Linked DNA regions of Homo sapiens. The protein of the gene in region 1 purifies or fractionates together with the protein of each later gene. This does not show direct contact. Each region holds a gene or a part of one and is shown in the gene's direction. Other genes may lie near its edges.

What was found. Proteins that work in one complex are often made in the same cells at the same time.
Region 2: the proteins of RTEL1 (region 1) and CCNYL1 purify together in Homo sapiens (affinity purification with mass spectrometry, with the first as the bait; one large-scale study listed by BioGRID). This does not show direct contact.
Region 3: the proteins of RTEL1 (region 1) and WDFY3 purify together in Homo sapiens (affinity purification with mass spectrometry, with the first as the bait; one large-scale study listed by BioGRID). This does not show direct contact.
Region 4: the proteins of RTEL1 (region 1) and AATF purify together in Homo sapiens (affinity purification with mass spectrometry, with the first as the bait; one large-scale study listed by BioGRID). This does not show direct contact.

Annotation. Positions count from the first base shown.
Region 1 is NC_000020.11:63,674,195-63,679,297, forward strand, and holds part of RTEL1 (regulator of telomere elongation helicase 1), read left to right. Parts: intron 1-3,449; exon of another isoform or gene 3,450-3,950; coding exon 3,951-3,989; exon of another isoform or gene 3,990-4,073; coding exon 4,074-4,152; exon of another isoform or gene 4,153-4,181; intron 4,182-5,103. UniProt on the Homo sapiens protein: A probable ATP-dependent DNA helicase implicated in telomere-length regulation, DNA repair and the maintenance of genomic stability. Acts as an anti-recombinase to counteract toxic recombination and limit crossover during meiosis.
Region 2 is NC_000002.12:207,713,976-207,719,078, forward strand, and holds part of CCNYL1 (cyclin-Y-like protein 1), read left to right. Parts: intron 1-5,103. UniProt on the Homo sapiens protein: Key regulator of Wnt signaling implicated in various biological processes including male fertility, embryonic neurogenesis and cortex development. Activates the cyclin-dependent kinase CDK16, and promotes sperm maturation.
Region 3 is NC_000004.12:84,815,752-84,820,854, reverse strand, and holds part of WDFY3 (WD repeat and FYVE domain-containing protein 3), read left to right. Parts: intron 1-668; coding exon 669-770; intron 771-3,269; coding exon 3,270-3,463; intron 3,464-5,103. UniProt on the Homo sapiens protein: Required for selective macroautophagy (aggrephagy). Acts as an adapter protein by linking specific proteins destined for degradation to the core autophagic machinery members, such as the ATG5-ATG12-ATG16L E3-like ligase, SQSTM1 and LC3.
Region 4 is NC_000017.11:36,986,290-36,991,392, forward strand, and holds part of AATF (protein AATF), read left to right. Parts: intron 1-327; coding exon 328-442; intron 443-2,229; coding exon 2,230-2,431; intron 2,432-2,957; coding exon 2,958-3,122; intron 3,123-4,484; coding exon 4,485-4,568; intron 4,569-5,103. UniProt on the Homo sapiens protein: Part of the small subunit (SSU) processome, first precursor of the small eukaryotic ribosomal subunit.

The DNA of each region.
Region 1 (5,103 bases):
AGCCAGGCTGCTTGGTCCTGAGGCCCGTGCTACTGCAGTGGGCAGCCTGCCCTGTGGCTGTGTGTGGTCGGCCTGGGCACCATCTATTCAGGCTGGCACTGCAGGGCATCCGCTTCTCTCAGAGGCTTCTTGGGTGTGAATTCTTCAGGGTCCTGTAGCCTGTGGAAGGGCTGGTATTGTTCAGTAGTTCTGGTATTTTCCAAAGACCTATGTCTTCTCCCAGCCAGTATCAACTTGGCCTCTACTGTGTAAAACTGGAAAACTCTACTTTGTGAAGCTGAGTTGGGAGCATCGCTTGAGGCCAGGAGTTTGAGACCAGCCTGGGCAACATGGCGGAACCTCGCCCCTGCCAAAAAATTAGCCAGGTGTGGTGGTGTGCTCCTGTGGTCCAAGCTTTTCCGGAGGCCGAAGTGGGAGGCGTGCTTGAGCCTGGGAGGCAGAGCTTCCGGTGCCCCAGATGACTCCACTGCACTCCAGCCTGGGCGGCAGAGTGAGGCCATCTCAAAAAAAAAAAAAAGGAAAACTAAATATATTCACTGTAAGGGCATTTTGCATCTTTAAATGACCCACAAATCTGGCATGCATCAGCTGCTCTGCCTGTAGGTTCCTTCCCAGTGTTTGTCCAGAGGTGTATTTCCACACAGCGCTAGTCACGGCATACGTGGAAAACGTGGAAACCCTTCATGGATGTTGTCAGTTGGTCTATATTTTCTTTCTTTTTTTTTTTTTTGAGATGGAGTTTCACTTTTGTTGCCCAGGCTGGAGTGCAATGGCGCGATCTTGGCTCACTGCAACCTCCGCCTCCTGGGTTCAAGCAATTCTCCTGCCTCAGCCTCCCAAGTAGCTGGGATCACAGGCGTGCACCACCACGCCCAGCTAATTTTGTATTTTTAGTAGAGATGGTTTCTCCGTGTTGGCCAGGCTGGTCTCGAACTCCTGACCTCACGTGATCCACCCGCTTCGGCCTCCCAAAGTGCTGGGATTACAGGCGTGAGCCGCCACGCCCGGCCTTTGTCCATATTTTCTACATGGCTTCTGTAAACAGCTGACTAGGAGTCTGTGTGAATATCTTCATAGGTTCTGCTGTGACACTACTTGCTCGTGAGCATCTCCAGGTGTAAACAGCATCAGCTTCCCCCATTTTCCTTTAAAATCGCACATGTGGACGGACACCACGGGGACCCTGGACCCTGGGGAGCCCCGTCCTCACCCTTCTCACCAGGATGGCTGCTTGGTAGAGAGTGAGTTTGCAAAGTTGGCATTTGTTTAGTACAGAAGTTATCAGGTGTTCTGGCTTTAGAATCCCTTTATATATATATATATATACATATATTTAAGTGACAGGGTCTCACTCTGTTGCCCAGGCTGGAATGTGGTGGTACAATCAAAGTTCCCTGTAGCCTCGGCCTCCTGGGCTCATGGGATCTTCCCGTCTCAGCGTCTTAAAGCGCCGGGACCACAGGTGTGCACCACTGCCACCGGCTCTCAAGATTGCCACGCAGGGAGTTGCAGTGGGGGAAGGGGTTCCTGGGACTTTGAACGCTCCACCTCCCTCCTCTCCACAGTCCCCCAACCCCACCTCTCTAACGGGGTGGACGGCCGCCTCTTTCCATCCTTCGCTTGGCGCAGGGTGGGGAGAGTGACAGGTCTCCTTCCCTCATCTCGGCAGCTGCCATTTCATCGCTTACATAACGTGGGAGAAACATCCACCCACCCCCAGGCCTGTGTGAACATCACCACGGGGCCTTCTCCACTCTTCAGTTTTGTTAGTTACTTGATGTGCAGGGCTTTTTGTTGTAACTAGTGGGGGACGTGTGGTGGGGTGGGCTTCTGCCATCTCATTCAGGACCAGAACTTCAGTTTTCATCCCTATCTGTTCCCCCACCCCTTTGGAGATGGGGTCTCACTCTGTCACCCAGGCTGGAGAGCGGTGGTGCCATCACGGCTCACTGCAGCCTCCACCTCCTGCAGCCTCCACCTCTTGGGCTCAAGTGATCCTCCTGCCTCGGCCTCCCAAGCTCCTGGGACTACAGGCGTGTGCCACTGTGCTTGGCAGGGTCCATTCTTTTCCTCACACTTTATTTATTGAAGAGCCCAGGCCGTTTACCCTGCAGAGTCGGAATCTGTACAGGAGGGGCAGCCACACGAGTTCCCCGGTTTACTCTGAACTTAGGTGGCTTGAGGGCCCCAGTTAGACTGCGGCCACCGTTTGCCGGGCTCCAGATGGGACGTCCTTTCTATCAGAAGGCTCACAGTATCTCCTTTCCCGTTTCTTCCCATGTGAACATTGTTGCTGCTGAACACCTGAATATGTTAATCACTGGGGGCTTGCAAGATGGCAGTGTGCTAATTCCATCATCTAGTCAGTTAGCAGGAATAACTTAGGACCACGCCCTGCACCATATCAGCTATGTGGTGATCCCATTCACACAGGAAAGGTGGGACAAATGCTGGGGGTGGGCCGGGTGTGCTGTCTCACACCTGTCATCCCAGCACTTTGGGAGGCCCAGGCAGGCGGATCACGAGGTCAGAGATTGAGACCATCCTGGCCAACACGGTGAAACCCCGTCTCTACTAAAAATACAAAAAAATTAGCCAGGTGTGGTGGTGCATGCTTGTAATCCCAGCTACTTGGGAGGCTGAGGCAGGAGAATCACTTGAACCCAGGAGGCGGAGGTTGCAGTGAGCCGAGATCGCACCATTGCACTCCAGCCTGGCGACAGAGCGAGACTCCGTCTCAAAAATCAATCAGTCAATCAAGTGTCATCACTGAATGTTTGTGTGTGAACGTGGGGATTGGTCCTGCCCCATGCTCCCTCCTGAATCTCACTCCTGACCTCAGTTGCTGCACCTTGAGGTGTTTTCATGTGGGCTCTTGTGTCCTGACCCCGGCGGTTGTGGCCTCTTTGCTGTCTGGGAGTCAGGATTTTTCACACTCATGTCCTGCTCCAGACCTGGAATCAGCCAAGTCTCCAAGAAGCCCTGCTTTCTTTTCCTGCAAGACGGTATTTCAAGACCCGCCATGCGGCAGCGGGTTGGTCATGGTTACTGGGTTGGTCGTTGTTACTGGGTGTTTTCGTGGAGATACAGCCATACGCACAGGTGTGTTCACAAATGTTAATTCTAAAGGTCAAACACCCGGCCAGGCATAAGGGCTCAGCGGTAATCCCAGCACTTTGGGAGACCAAGACTGGTGGATCACCTGAGGTCAGGAGTTTAAGACCAGCCTGAGCAACAGGGTGAAACCCCATCTCTACTAAAAATGCGAAAATTAGCCGGGCATGGTGGCGCACACCTATAGTCCCAGCTAGTCGGGAGACAGACACGAGAATTGCTTGAACCTGGGACATGGAGGTTGCAGTGAGCAGAGATGGCGCTGCTGCACCCCTGCCTGGGTGACAGAGTGACACCCTGTCTCAAAAATGAATAGATAAATAAAGATAAAACACCTGCTCCTCTTGGTGTCTCCAGTTTGGATTTGGCCTGTGTAGCCTCTTCCTTCGCCTGTTGGTGGATTTGGCCTGCACGGATTCTGTGTGGCCTCTTCCTTCCCCTGTTGGTGGATTTGGCCTGCACGGATTCTGTGTGGCCTCTTCCTTCCCCTGTTGGTGGATTTGGCCTGCACGGATTCTGTGTGGCCTCTTCCTTCCCCTGTTGGTGGATTTGGCCTGCACGGATTCTGTGTGGCCTCTTCCTTCCCCTGTTGGTGGATTTGGCCTGCACGGATTCTGTGTGGCCTCTTCCTTCCCCTGTTGGTGGATTTGGCCTGCACGGATTCTGTGTGGCCTCTTCCTTCCCATGTTGGTGGATTTGGCCTGCATGGATTCTGTGTGGCCTCTTCCTTTCCATGTTGGTGTCCTTTTTTCCATGCCAGGAATCCTGGTTCTCAAGGGCGGGGTTGTTGGCACGAGCGTGATGCAGACTGCCTTTGCTGCCTTTCTCTTGCCCAGGGCTGAACATGGAGCTGGAAGACATTGCAAAGCTGAAGAGTAAGTGTTGCCCTCCCCGCCTCCTTGCAGCTGGGTGGGGCCTCCTCCTTGCGAGGAGGTGGGTGACACCTCCTCGACCCACAGTGATCCTGCTGCGCCTGGAGGGGGCCATCGATGCTGTTGAGCTGCCTGGAGACGACAGCGGTGTCACCAAGCCAGGGAGGTGAGAGGCGGGGAGCCAGCCCCTTCACTGCAGGCCCAGCCTAGAGCTAGAAACGGGCCATGGTGCAGTCCTGGGCTGTCACATCACGAGTGAGGCCTGTTTTCAGGCCTGTTTTCCCTTTTTGAGACCTGGGAGGAGCACCTGCTTTGCATGATCTGGTTGCTGAGATGTTGAGAGGAGCAGCACACACTCCCACGGGACAGCACACAGCCCCCCACGGAACGGCACACACACCCATGGAACAGCACACACACTCCCACGAACAGCACACACACTCCCACGAACAGCACACACACTCCCACGGAACAGCACACACACCCACGGAACGGCACACACACCCACGGAACAGCACACACACTCCCACGGAACAGCACACACACCCACGGAACGGCACACACTCCCACGGAACGGCACACTCTCCCACGGAACAGCACACTCTCCCACGGAACAGCACACACACTCCCACGGAACAGCACACACACCCACGGAACGGCACACACTCCCACGGAACAGCAGACTCTCCCACGGAACAGCACACACACTCCCACAGACAGCACACACACACCCACGGAACAGCACACTCTCCCACGCGGGGCCGCTGGGTTTCCTGCAGTTTCTCCTCCTCCAGGCCTTTCCCTGGACCCTGGTCCAGTCCGTCATTTGAGCACAGGTGCCTGTTAGAACGAGACCTTCTTGTTAGGACGATGAGTGTCCCAGCCACCACCTCTTTTGGACTCCGGGAGGCCTGGAACGTTCTGAACGCTCCGTGGGGCTCCAGTCTTCTCCGCAGCCAGGGCAGCAGGGTTTGCTGTCTGTCCTGCAGGCAGATGAGGAGTCAGGGCTGGGGCCTGTGTGGGGGCTCTCCTGAGCGCACAGCCGCCGAGGTGGAGCGTGTTCTGCCTGAGCGCCGACCTGGTCGGGGGAATCCCAGTTGCTTCCAGGTGGAGCCAC
Region 2 (5,103 bases), on another chromosome or scaffold:
CCCAGTGTACATGAAAATACATACTTTCATGTACATGTAATTTAGCCCTTCCAAAATAAGGCCTGTTTATATTCCCCGTGTTGCTAATGAAGAAATAAAGAGTTAGGTATGTAGAATGACTATGTAAGACAGCCACTGAGCAGAACTAAGGTTCTCAGTTCTCAGACTGACATGGAGGTGAGATATACCAAGTTCAGTTCTTAAAAAACTTTTAAAAATCCAGAATGCATCATGTATTTTACCCATAAAATAGTCCTGTTTTTGAGAACTTACTTCGGTCTTGATTAGTTCCTTTCAAAGTTTATTTTACACGATTCAGAGGCAACACTTACATCTCTTTTTTTTTTTTTTTTTTTTTTTTTTAAGAGAAAGAGTCTCACTGTGTTGACCAGGCTGGCCTCGAACTCCTGGCCTGGGCTCAAGCAGTCCTCCCACCTCAGCCTCCTGAATAGCTGGGACCACGGGCGTGTGCCATCTTGCCTGGCTCCATCTTATGTCTATACATTCATTTCAGTGGATAAGAATAAAAGTAGAGGTAACAAAATGGCCTAAATATACCCATCAAATAAACAGGTTGATAAATTTTAAAGAGTTTGTTCTGGTAACTGTGAATTGAAGCTGAGAATGCACTGGACAGAGGAATATTAGAAGCTGGCAAGAGGGAAGGTAAGGTACCAGGCATTAAGCATGGGATGATGATAAAGAGTGCTAAATCAGAAAAGTTGGAAAAAGAGAATTTGTAAGCACAGAATTTACCATTGTATGTTAGTATGACAGTTACATTTTTATTTCAATTTGTCTCAAAATTTATTTTTGTGGCATTCAATAAAGTGATAATAGAAATCTCCATTTCGGCATTTGCCTATTATTCATAAGTTTCCATAGAAACATGGCCAGAACACCAAATATAAAGTATAGACACATTGAAAGTTTGCTTTTAATATCTTTATTTCAGACAATTTTATATCAGTCTCCCTGGAAACAGAAATTCTTACTGAGATGTAAAACATTTGGCTGGGCATGGTGGCTCACGCCTGTAATCCCAGCACTTCGGGAGGCTGAGGTGGGCGGATCACGAGGTCAGGAGTTCGAGAGCAGCCTGGCCAACATGGTGAAACCCCGTCTCTACTAAAAATACAAAAATTAGCTGGGTGTGGTGGCGGGCATCTGTAATCCCAGCTACTCAGGAGGCTAAGGCAGGAGAATCACTTGAACCCAGGAGGCAGAGGTTGCAGTGAGCTGAGATCGTGCCACTGCACTCTAGCCTGGACAGTGGAGCAAGACTCTGTCTCAAAACAAACAAACAAACAAAAAATTTAGCTTTTCTACAATGAAGAATTATTTTTGTTACTTAGACAAAAATCATACATAAATGACGCTCGGCTTTGTTCTTCAAGCTATTTCTTTTTTTTTTTTTTTTTTTTTTGACAGAGCTTCACTCTTGCCTAGGCTGGAGTGCAATGGCACAAACTTGGTTCAGTGCAACCTCTTCCTCCCGTGTTCAAGTGATTCTCCTGCCTCAGCCTCCCAAGTAGTTGGGATTACAGGCATATGCCACCATGCCCAGCTAATTTTTGTATTTTTAGTAGAGACAGGGTTTCAGTATGTTGGCCAGGCTGGTCTCGAACTCCTGACCTCAAGCGATCCAGCTGCCTTGGCCTCCCAAAGTGCTGGGATCATAGGTGTGAGCCACCGCGCCTGGCCTTTTTTTTTTTTTTGAGATGGAGTTTCGCTCTTGTTGCTCAGGCTGGAGTGGAATGGCGCGATCTCGGCTCACTGTAACCTCTGCGCCCAGAGTTCAAGCAGTTCTCCTGCTTCAGCCTCCTGAGTAGCTGGGATTACAGGTGTGTGCCACCACGCCCAGCTAATTTTTTGTGTTTTTAGTAGAGATGGTTTCACCATGTTGGCCAGGCTGGTCTGGAACTCCTGACCTCAGGTGATCCACCTGTCTCAACCTCCCAAAGTGCTGGGATTACAGGTGTGAGCCACCACGCCTGGTCTCGTCAAGCTAAGAGATGCTCCTAAGAACCTAGTAAACATTTCAGATAGACTCAAAGTATTTTCTACTACCTTGCCTTTATTTAACGGTATGTCTAACATAACTGACGGTAGTATCAGTAACACAAAATAAGATACTAAGATCTTATTGTCCGATTTTATTAGTACTCTTGACTTTTCATGGAGCATTTTATGTTCTGACGTTAGGAGCTTTGCTAATTTGCTGGCTAAAGGCGCTCTCTGAAGTGACTCTTTCTATTCTTTTCCACTGATGGGTGAAGGTAGGGAAAGAATTGGCAATGTAATGTGGAAAAACCTCTGAGCAACAGATCTTTCCTCTTTCCAGTAGCTATTTTAAGCCCTCTCTTTTTTTTTTTTTTTTGCTTTTTTGAATAATATGTTTGATGTAAAAGACATAGAGAATACAGAAAAGTCATTGATTATGGTATGCATATGAATATAACATTTTATTTTAGAAAAATGAGATCATTCTATATGAGCTGCTTCATAACTTACAGCAGTGAAATAATGTCATAAATTCCTGAATCACTGCTTGACATCCAGAGAGTGCTCCAAGATATCTTTCCATGCCAGGACACCCTGCTCTATCGCATGCCTTCTAGTAACTGCTTAATGTACCATCAGATGGTTGGAGTATCATTTATTTACCTATCCTTTATGATTGGGCATCTTTTCTAGTAACATCATACACAGTCTCATTACATTTGATTTCAAGGGTACCGATAAAAACATATTTTGATGACTGATGCCTTGTACCTCCCTGTAGAATTCAGTTAAATCTATGGGTTGAGTCATTTTGTAGTTAAGATATTTTAGTATTAAATGTTCTTATGGGCCAGGTGTGGTGGCTCACGCCTGTAATCCCAGCACTTTGGGAGGCCGAGGCGGGTGGATCACGAGGTCAGGAGATCGAGACCATCCTGGCTAACACGGTGAAACCCCGTCTCTACGAAAAATACAAAAAATTAGCCGGGCGTGGTGGCGGGCGCCTGTAGTCCCAGCTACTCGGGAGGCTGAGGCAGGAGAATGGTGTGAACCCAGGAGGCAGAGATTGCAGTGAGCCGAGATCACGCCACTGCACTCCAGCCTGGGTGACGGAGCGAGACTCCATCTCAAAAAAAAAAAAAAAAAAAGTTCTTATGTCAAATTGGAGTTAGCATTGACTTTTCCCTGGACTTTAGAATTCATCATTTAATATTTTTTGTTTCTTGGTAGCCTATCTTGCATCTTTAATTCTGAATAGCTACCACTTTAAAAGATTTGATGCTTACCACTTTAAAAGATTTGATTAGATGACAAATCAAGAGAGAATGTTAGAAGAAATATTAAAAGATGTGGGAAAACTGGGAGAAACTTGACTAGTTTTGGGTGTGCTGAAACAGATGTTTATTGAGTACCTTTAGGTGGCCAGGCTGTGTTCCAGATTTAGGGCAGACAGTGGTATACAAGACAGAACCTCATCCTAACTCTGATCCTTACATTCTGGAGGGAGCTAGGGATAGATAATACATGAATAATCAAGAATGTTAGGTGGTGAGGTGCTAGGGAGAAAAGTAAAATAGGGTCATGGATTGGGGAGGAGGACAGTTACATGGGGGTTGTGGGGATGAAAGATGGCTGCTCTCCTTACGTGACCTGTGAGCAGTCCTAAAGTGAGAAGGGAGCCTTGTGAGGATGGTTGGTGAGAGCCAGGGGTCCACACAGACAGTTACTTTGGAGTTCCTTGAATGGGAGCAAACTTGTTTTTGGCCAAGGACAGAAAGACACAGGGTGGCTGCGGAAGAGTGAAAAGGATGCCAGGACTATGGTGGGTTAAGGCCATGTGTGTATAGTGGGCCTTGGCAAAGAATATAGACTTTAGTTGTGATAGGAAACCATTGGAGGATTATAGCCTGGGAAATATTTTTAATTCTTTTTTTTTTTTTTTGAGATGGAATCTTCACTGTGTCGCCCAGGTTGAAGTACAGTGGCTCAATCTTGGCTCACTGCAACCTCCGCCTCCTGGGTTCAAGCGATTCTCCTGCCTCAGCCTCCCGAGTAGCTGGGGCTACAAGCACGTGCCACCACACCCGGCTCATTTTTTGTATTTTTAATAGAGATGGGGTTTCTCCGTGTTAGCCAGGATGGTCTCGATCTCCCAACCTCGTGATCCACCCACCCTGGCCTCCCAAGGTGCTGGGATTACAGGTGTGAGCCACCATGCCCGGCCAATATTTTTAATTGTTTAAGAAAAAGATCAGACGGTGGCTCATGCCTATAATCCCAGCAGTTTGGGAAGCAGAGGCAGGAGGATTGCTTGAGCCCAGGAGTGGGCTGGGACTAGCCTGGACAACGTGCTGAGACCCTGCCTCTACAAAAAGTAAATTAGCCAGGTGTGGTGGCACACACCCATAGTCCCAGCTACTCAAGAAGCTGAGGCAGGAGAATCTCCTGAGCCCAGGAAGTCAAGGCTGCATTGAGCTGTGATTGCTCCACTGCCCTCCAGCCTGGGTGACAGTGAGACTGTCTCAAAAAAAAAAAAAGATCAGACTAGCTGTAAAAGTAGGTAGCAAAGTGATGAATAGACAAGTCACAGAAAAATAAATGCAGATGATCCTTAAACACAGCTTCACACTTAAGAGAAATACAAACGAAAACTGTGCTGTGATTTCTCTTCTGTTGGGAGAAGATCCAAAAACTTGACAATACATTCTTTGGTGTGGCTGCGAAGAGTTGCATTCGTGTATTGCTGGTTAAAATGTAAGGTGGTTTGACTCCCTGAAGAGGAATTTGGCATAATCTCAAACATTGCAAATGCATTTAATCCAGAAATCCTACTTCAAGGAATTTATCCTGAAGGCATACCCCATAAATATGAAATAACATGTGCATAAGGTTTTGTTGCATTATTTTCAATAGCTAAATATTGGAAATAATATGTCTAGTAAGAAATTGGTAAAATAAACTGTTATATCCACACAGAGGAGAATTATGGAGCTGTTAAAAAAAAAAAAAACTCTCTTTACTGCTATGGAGTGATACCCAGATATCCAGGATATGTTACATGAAAAAAAACAAGGAGGAGAATGTACAGTAATGTATGAA
Region 3 (5,103 bases), on another chromosome or scaffold:
GGAAGGTAAAAACTGAGGGAAAACATGTATGATCCACATGACTAGTATCTACTGCCTTGTGCTTCTAAGAGCGAGCTTTAAAAGCTTCTGAAAATAATCAGATTTGTTATTAATTACAACTAATAAATATAGTTAAATGTATAGTTACTTCAATGTGTTTTTATTGTACAGAGCAAATACGTATATTTAATGATGTTATATACACAATGTATTATCATTGGGTACCTCTCTGATAAATCTGATAAAAGTACAGTAGTATCTGGCAATTAATAAGTATTAAATGTGAATTAATACAGGTTGAATAGATAGCTTTATTCATGAACTTTTCTCTCTTTTTGGTGTATCAAAATCTAGCGTTCTCCTGTTGACATCCTTTATTAGGAAAACCCTCTGTGAAGAGGATATATTTAACCTTTGCATTTTCATTTTTAATATTTATTGGATAACGGCCACTTGCAAGCATACCGAAATAAAATCTGTTAATATTGATTTTGAGCCTACTTTTGCCAAATGTTGGATGCATGCATCGTTTTAAAGATTATATTATATCTGTCCTATTAGGGGTAAAACTGAATACTGAAGAAATAAAGAAATTATTACAGTAAAACGGAATCAAGAAAAAATAAGCTTATCACTTTTGTAATTTGGACCTTTGAACCTTTTTTTAGGGGACTCAAGAAATAATAGTTCAGTTGAAGACCAAAAACACCTGGCTTTATTGGTTATGGAGACCTTGACAGTGCTTCTTCAAGGATCAAACACAAATGCAGGTAATTTAAAAAGCTGCAAGCAAATACTTTGGGAGATTACCACTGATTACATCTTCTGTGGTTATTCTTGCTTCTGAAATCTTCCTGTCACTTTAGAGAAAAAACTATTGATTCAGTGATGGTACCCGTCATGTCCCTAAAAATGCAGTGCTTTTGACCATCAGGAGCACCTTGATGACAAAACATATAAGATTGTTACTATTTCAAAATGATGTTTAAATTGCTTTTTATAGTGTCTTGTGTTGAAAGTATTCTTCTAATTTTTTATTGATACACTCTTACTCAAATAAGTTGCTATTTAAATTCTTTCTAAAATATTTTCTTTACACAGTGATTTAAAGAATATTTTTAGTACTACAAGTTAGAGTATTATAATGTTACAACCTTCAGGAAATACTGAACAATGATTCTCTAATAAAACGTAATCTCTCCAAGGTTAATTAACTTTACTAAATATTTTGTTTAATTTTGGTCTCAATTTCTCTTTTATACTTTTCTACCTGTCATTAACAGATAACCTAACTATATTTATAAAATATCACTCTTGCTTTTTAAAAAAGATTACTTGAGATTTTAATTAACATCAAACAACTCTCAGGTAATAAGTTCAGTACAACTTGAGAGGAATAATGAGTTCAGATTAGTAGGCTGGGCTCAAATCATAGGGAGCTTTTTAGGCCATGGTAAGGAGCTTGAAATATATTTTAAGTGTTATGGAAAGCCATGGATGAATGAACCCCATGCCCAAATGCATGACTGTTTGCCTGAATGCAGGGAAACTCAGCATTCATCATATTTAAAATATATTGTGTATCCCAGGTACCATGCTAGCTAGGTGTTAGATTATTCTAACACCTAGATGCTAAGGTAAGATCATTCTTGCTCCCTGGGAATTAGAATCTAGTGAAGAAAAATGTAGACACATAATTATAGAAGTAATTAGTCTGATACAAATTTGGCAAATGCTAAGATAGACTTGAATGAATTTAACAGGTAATTGAAACAATGAGTATGATGAATTTTAGTGGATACTATAGTAACATTTTGTCTATGGCATAATGCATAATCTTATTTCCACTAACTAGGTTTAGTTAACTGAGATAATCAGAAACATAATGAAGATAGACTAACAGGAATTTGCTTAGCAAATTAGCTTTCCTTGAGACGACCTAGAAGTTGCACAGGAAGAGATTGGACAATTGGAGAGCTTACTCTGCACGACTAAAAGTCACTTAGTACATATCCCAAAGTGCCAAACAATTTCATACAATTCTTTTCAGTTTTTCTTTTCCCAGTATGAAAGATGTTACTAGCTGTGTGATGTTAGGCATTTAAAACAGTACTTTACTCATAGTTTAAGTATTTAAATAATATTAGCCATTATGATTATCTAGTGGGTCCTAACTGACAACCAGGAGGTAACTAAACAGGCCTTCAGGTAATGAAAGGATGTCACAAATTCCATGTGCTGAATCTCAAGCACATGGCTTAGACTGACTTCATGATCTTATAATTTTTATAAAGTTAACAAATAGAAAGCCACTAAGCAGAGAGGACAGTGGCTGCTATAGCAGAATACACTGTTTTAGTAAACGTTTATTGAAACACAAATCAGGAGAAAATCCAGTAGTCATGGAAGACCAAACATAAGCAATAATAGTAAGACTGTTTGTTATAAACCATAATAGAGATATAAACAAGATGCCCTAAAAACGTAAGGGATAGAAGAATTACTTAGAGGAAATACTAATTAGTGATTTCAGTCACTGGGCCCATTTTTTTAATACTGGAGGATGATATTAATATTTGATGTGAGAACAGTATCACTTGTGAGCAGGAGCACAGGCTTACAGAGCTGGGCTATGTAGGCATACATCCTTTTCTGTTGCTTACTAGCTGTATGACTTTGACCGCCTTACCTCTATATGGTAGGGGATGAGTATTAAGTAAGTCAATCTGTGTAAAGGCTTTGGAGCAGTAACAATGACACATACTTCTGTTACAGAATTTGTCACTTTTTGTTCTTATGCTCTACCTGTGCAACAAAACATGTTGGTTCCTTGTAATTTTTCCCATGGTGGAATAATTTATTCCATTCCTTTCTTGCTACTATTTTGGAAGCCATGTTCATTTAAATCTCCTTTATTTAGGCTATTGTTCCTCTGAAAGCCTTTTACATAAGTTGATTACAATAGAGAGTCTCCTAGGGTCTGCCTAAGAGACTTGTGAATGTTCTAGATTTTGAGAGCTTGGACATGGTGAACATATCACGGCATTAATCTTGCATTAAGGAAATGTAGAGAAAATTTGCATATACCTTTGCTGACAACCCACTGTGCAAATTTGTATTGTAATTTAAAAGGTGAAATAGTTGGGTAGGTTTTATTTACATTATTATGAGTTACTTTACCTACAAAAAATAACTGAATGTTAATTCATCTGACTTGTCTCAGAATATTTTAAAGTAGCCATTGTTGGACTTTTTCTCCTTCCTTCAAGGAATTTTTCGAGAATTTGGAGGTGCAAGATGTGCACATAATATAGTAAAGTACCCTCAATGCCGGCAGCATGCCTTGATGACTATCCAACAGCTGGTGCTCTCCCCAAATGGGGACGATGACATGGGCACTCTCCTGGGGCTAATGCATTCAGCCCCACCGACGGAATTGCAGTTGAAGACTGATATTTTAAGGGTAAGTTTGATAAATGTGTTTCCCTTCTTTTACTACTAAAATCTGTGGTTATTTTTAGATGATCTGTATTTAAGTTAGAGACAGGGAAATTAAAAAAAATCCAAATTACCCAAGAAACCTCACAACTTTGTACACGTTAGGAACTTGGAAAAACTCCAGTCATTTATGTCTTTCAGTATATATTTTACTTCTGCTGATAAACCTTTTCAGTAATTATCTTGACTTACTGGAACTCTTAAATTAAATATTAGTGAAGTATAGGATCTTAATTAATACTAAATATATGTATTTTCTGATCAGTTAAATTCACTCATAGTGTTATGCATCTGTGAAATGAATGTTAGATTTGGCATTTTATACACATGCATGCATATATGTATGTATGTAAGTAATGGATATTCTAGTAGATATCAAACAATATACCAGGAGTTATACATATGCTTTTATCATTTACTCCTTAGTAATACTATAAATTAAGTAGCACCCTGTTTTGCAGATGAGAAAACTTAGGTTTAGAGAAATCATATAACATGGATTTTGTTCACTTAAGTGACTTTTAATTAGTAGAACCGACCCCCAGATTTCAATACCCGTTTTATTTCCACAGCACCATTGTTTTATACAGATTTATACACTCACATTCTCCCATATTACTGGTTATTGATATTATAAGAAATGATATGTAAGAAATTTTTAGAATCAAACTATAATCGAATGTTTCACTTTCATTTAGAAGTGAATTTAGTAATGCAAGTAAGGAGTAATGGAAAAGTAGACTATTAAATATTAAATGATATATTTTAAAAATTTCCAAGTTCCAGATATAATAGTAGCTAACATTTATTGACTGCTTTCTATTAGTACTGTTGTATGCATTTATCTGCATCTACTTATTTAATCCTTATGATAAAAATAAATACTATTAGTGTCCCTGCTTTACATACTGTAAACTGAAACACAGACTGGTTGAAATATTTTCCCAAGTTCTATATGTCTGTCTAGTAGGTAGAGGAGTCTAGATCTGAACCCATGTAGTCTCTTTGTAAAGCTGTGCTTTCAGCTTATCTGCTGTGAATAATAGTTGTTTTAATAAAAAGAGACATAGCCTTCTCTTTCTGTGACTAAAAACCTGCTCTTGTATTTAAATAATATCTGAGTAAAGTGAAAGAAGTCCATTAAAATTTATGTTCTTTAATTTATTGATTGATGCAAGGTTTCTAAATACAATTTTCCGTTGTAAGGATTCAGGCCTCCTTGATTCCAGGACGAGGGCAGAGAAAGAAACAAAATGAGCCTAAAACATTTCAGTTAGCCTTGAAAAAGTAAAGAAGAGATCAAAGAAAATAAGCAATTAAGTAAGTACAATCAAACAAATAGAGAAGAGGAAAAACTCTTACTTATAGTCAAAAGTCAAAGAAAATCACAATTTATGAACTATCGTAGTAATAATTGATTCAAGTAAAATTCATCACTGGATACTAAAGATAGTAGATGAAAGTTTTAGAAGTGAAAGGATTTTTGCGTACTCTTAAATTTTATCCTTAAAAGATATTTCTTAATTTCGAGTGCTAAAATATTAGCTTTACAATGGACCCTACCGTAACTAAATGATCAGCATTAACTTTGCCAGTGATGGACAG
Region 4 (5,103 bases), on another chromosome or scaffold:
TGGTTATAATGAGAGGCCGGGGAGGAGTTTGTCAAGCTTAATACATTTAAGAGCTGACAATGTATTGGACTCTTACTCTTTGCAGACACTTTTCTAAGCACCTTACATGCATGATCTTGCTTGTTCCTCACAACAATCCTGTGAGGTAGGCAACGTTGTTATTTCCATTTGGGAATATTTCAGAGAGTATTTAGTTCCTGTGTGTATCCTGTGCCTCCCCTTCACTCCCCACAGCCAGAACTGCTCAGGAGTCATGAGTTATAGGCATCACCTACTTTGGAGAATTGTAGATAATTAATTGTCCTTTCTCTGTCCTTTATTTCCCAGGTCACAAGGCACTTAAAGCATTGTTGAGGTCATTGGTAGGTCTTCAGGAAGAGTTGCTTTTCCAGTACCCAGACACTAGATATCTAGTAGATGGGACAAAGCCCAATGCGGGAAGGTAAGAGAACAGAATCATGGAGTTGCTTATTTTCTTTTCATTTGGATAGTTTCCCATCATTTATGAAAGAAAAGCTAAGTTCTCTTCAGGCAGATATTAATGTTAGTAAAATAGAGTCTCATATTTACCTGATGGTCAGGATGGCACATAAGTTGGTGATTAGATTTTAGATTTTTATATTTAGTTGTACCTGATGTGCTTTGCGGTCTTAGACAAAGGCTTGCCTTCTCTTTAGATCTATTGGAATTAGAAGATAAAAGCACTTTGTTTTTTAGAGATGGGGTCTTACACTGTCATCCAGGCTGGAGTGCAGTGATGTGATCGCAGCTCACTGCAGCCTCAAACTCCTGGGCTTAAGCGGTCCTCCTGCTTCAGCCTCCCAAATAGCTGGGACTGCAGGCACTTGCCACCATGCCTGGCTATTTTTTTTTTTTTTTTTTGTAGAGACAGGGTCTTGCTGTGTTTCCCTATCTGGTCTCAAACTCCTGGGCTCGAGCCATCCTTCCACCTCAGCCTCCCAAAGTGCTGGAATTATAAGCATGGGCCACTTCACCTGGCCAAAAGCACATTTTTAAAATATTAATGCTTAATTAATGTTTATGAAACATTCTGTGCCCATACCATATATTGGAATCACTGGTCACAGCCATCTCCTTTGAATAAAAGCTGTTATTATGAAAGATGGAAAAATTTCAGAAAACAGCAAAATAATTATTTTTTCCCCCTGAAATTATTACATTTGATGAAGATTTTTCCCCCTTTTGTTTACACCTGCTGTATATACCTGCTTGCTTTTTTTCCCTCGAGCTTATCTTTTGTTTCACTTTTTATCTACTGAACTAGTTGGGAGGACAAAAAGGAAACTCACATTTATTGAGCACCTATTATATGTTGAGGTCAGTAATCCAGTGAGTGCAACTGGCAGATAGTTGGAGGTTGTATTACATTGCCATGGCAGTTGCATAGATGGCACTGCAGGTTAGTTAGTGCTAATTGTTGCCTACCGCTTTGAGTTTTCTTCACATTCAGCTTCTCTTGTATTTGGTTCAACTAATATTATTCATCTTTCCTTAACAGTTGGTTACAGAGAGACACATTTCCCTTATTGATTTGAGGATTAAGGTCGTAGAAATATGGTTATGTGTTTAATTTTTAAATACTGTCCTATAATACTGCAGGCCTGGTTCATACACATTTCTAATAATTCTTTTAAAACCTCATTTATTTTTATGGTTTACTTACCTTTTAAAAAATATTTTGAAACTAGTTCTTTTTATATTTGTTTTAAAAGTTACATGAGGCTGGGTGTGGTGGCTCATGCCCTGTAATCCCAGCACTTTGGGAGGCCGAGGCAGGTGGATCACTGGAGGCCAGGAGTTTGAAACCAGCTTGGCCAACATAGTGAAACACCATCTTTACTAAAAATATGAAAAAAATTAGTCGGGCATGGTTGCACACACCTGTAATCCCAGCTACCCATGAGGCTGAGGCATGAGAATTGCTTGAACCCAGAAGTGGAGGTTGCAGTGAGCCAAGATCGCGCCACTGCACTCCAGCCTGGGCAACAGAGCAAGACTGTCTCAAAAAAAAAAGTTACACGAGTTTTTGATTGATCTCATGAATATTCTTCTCAAAGAGCAAAAGCCATCCTTATATCTTTGGTGTTATTTTGAATGGAGACAGAACAGGTAAGGCCTAAATATTCTCAGTCCTTTATGTGAGCCTAGTTTTTAAAATCTAAGTAATGTTTGTTTACACTGGACATAATATTCTTACTGCTTTTCTAGTGAGGAGATTTCTAGTGAAGATGATGAGCTGGTAGAAGAGAAGAAGCAGCAACGAAGAAGGGTCCCTGCAAAGAGGAAGCTGGAGATGGAGGACTATCCCAGCTTCATGGCAAAGCGCTTTGCCGACTTTACAGTCTACAGGAACCGCACACTTCAGAAATGGCACGATAAGACCAAACTGGCTTCTGGAAAACTGGGGAAGGCAAGTGTGTGTATGCGCGCATGTATGTGTAAGATAGGTTGTGGCAACTTGAAGAAGTTTTAAGAAATTGGAACTACAGCTCATTTATATGGATGTTGTCACGATGTAATGGTAATCATTCATTTCTATAGCAAAATCTACTGAACTTCTGGCACTGGGGTTTATACGATTCAGACTTGGGATTTTAACTTTATTAGAAAGAATGTTTTATTCTTAAAATTGAGGCCTTGTAAGTGTTCAAGTGCTGAAAATCCAAATACTTTAAAGGAGTGGATTTCAAAGCAATAATTATTAAAGTATCAGAAGCTAATCTCCGTGTGTAGAAAAATGATATGACCTGCTTAAGACTAACTTTTTTTTTTTAAGAACAATTATAGCCACTCACAAACTCAGTCCTTTACAGAAAGTCCCTCCTGAAAAGATGATTTTCTATCTCTCTGCTGACACAGAAAGATAGAGAAACCAATGTAGCTTGCCTTCAGCACTGATTTTCTGCATTATCTGACACTGCTTAATGTTGTTGCAGGGTTTTGGTGCCTTTGAACGCTCAATCTTGACTCAGATCGACCATATTCTGATGGACAAAGAGAGATTACTTCGAAGGACACAGACCAAGCGCTCTGTCTATCGAGTTCTTGGCAAACCTGAGCCAGCAGCTCAGCCTGTCCCAGAGAGTTTGCCAGGGGAACCGGTAAGAACTCTGTAATGCAGAGTGATTATGGGGAATAGTTTCTATGAGGCTTATTAGCTGAAAAACTTGTAGCTATTACCTGTTTATATAAGAGGTTAGTGAGAGAAAGGAAAGCAACACTACTTTACTGGATTACTGAGAGAAACTTGAGTGTATGTGAGAGGAGAGAGTTTTTAAAAATGGGGCTTCTATTAACTCCTGTGTGTCATCTTCTCTTAATTTTGAGTTTGATGCAGGAGTCTGGTAGTAGAAGCATTCATAATCCAATTTTCAAAATTCAGTTTTAAAGCTACTTCTGTAGAAATGTCAGTATTGAAACAAGTGTGTACTTTAGGCTCAACGTTTGCCATTTAGGTACTTTAGAAAGGGTGCAGAAGTGGAATAGTCAAATTCTTTTGTTTAAAGGAAACATTTAAAATTTTTTAATTATGGAAGAAATATATACTTAATCCTTTTTTAGTTTATAGCAACTTAAAATGAAAAGCAAAATTCTCTACTCTGAAAATTTCACTCCTGAGGTGAAATTTTTTTATTTTTTTTGTCAATTGCCTGTTAACGTAACTCCTGAGGTGAAATTTTCAGTATTTAATAGTTGTAACAAGTTTACAGTTAATAATTAATAGTTGTAACAAGTTTTTGGGTCTTTTCTATTTGTGTAACTATATATGTGTGCAAATAACAAATATATATGTATAAATATGGTTGCCTTTTTTACTAAATGAGAGACATTTATGTAGTATAAATATGTAAAATATTACAACTGTATTTAAAGTCTTGCAACTTTTAAAATCTAATAAGTCCTAGATACTCTTTCCATTTCATTACCTAGAGAGCTACCTCATTTTTCCTAATGACCTCAAAGTATTCCATTGTATGGATATGCACTATCATTTATGCAAACAATGGATATTATGTTGTCTCCAGTTTCAGAAACACTGCTACAGGAAAGATTCCTGTACATGTATTATGTGTTCGTATAAATATATGGGTAGATTTCTTGAAGTGGAAGTGTTAAAGAAAATACACCAAATTCTGATAGATGTTGCCAAATTGCCTCCAAAAAGGCTGCATTAATTTCAGTCGTAGAGGTGAAAAATGGTATCTTCTAATTCTAATTTACACATATTTAATTTGAATGAGGGTAAACATATTTTCATATGATTATTTATGGGTTTTTTTGGTCAACTGCCTGTTAATGTTTTTGCCTGTTTTCATATTGGACTGTTTTGTTTTTTAATTTTAAGAACTTTTTATATCTTAAGGAAAACAGTGCTTTGACTGTTCTACATATTATTTATAGTAGCTACATTAGTTAGATAGCCTTGTTGGGATTCACTCTTTTCTTACTCATTGTTAACATAGGAGATCCTTCCTCAAGCCCCTGCTAATGCTCATCTGAAGGACTTGGATGAAGAAATCTTTGATGATGATGACTTTTACCACCAGGTGAGACTTTTACACTCTCTTGTTACAAATCATGTTTTAGCATTTTAAAGCAGCTTATAGAATTCTCTGAACAAAGAAGTTGCTTATTTTGGAAGGATAGAGTCAGACAGTGAGTTAGAACTCCCGCGTTCAAAATTGACTTACAGTGTCATTGTGGATTTGTTGCTTTTCTTCTATTTTATGTTTTCCTTTTGAAATGAAAACAGCTATAGCTACTTTGTTGTTGCTTGAGTGTAAATTAGCTGTAAAACAGTTTCAGGTTTTTTTCTCTGAGTCAAGTGGGTTCTTTCTGAGCCATTTTTGATGATGGAGGATTTGTTAAGTTATTTGGTTTCTTGTCTCATTACTATTAGAATGGGCCGTGGAGCTGGAGGGCTGGGATCCCAGAGTTCCTGAATTGCGCTACTGATCCTATTATCTGTTAAATCTTGTTCTTAATGTCTTTTTGTGCCTGTCGAAGTCAGTTAAGTATGTATTGAGAATGTCTGCAACTGTTGATTATAATAAGAGCATAGTGCTTTTGAAGACAGAGAGA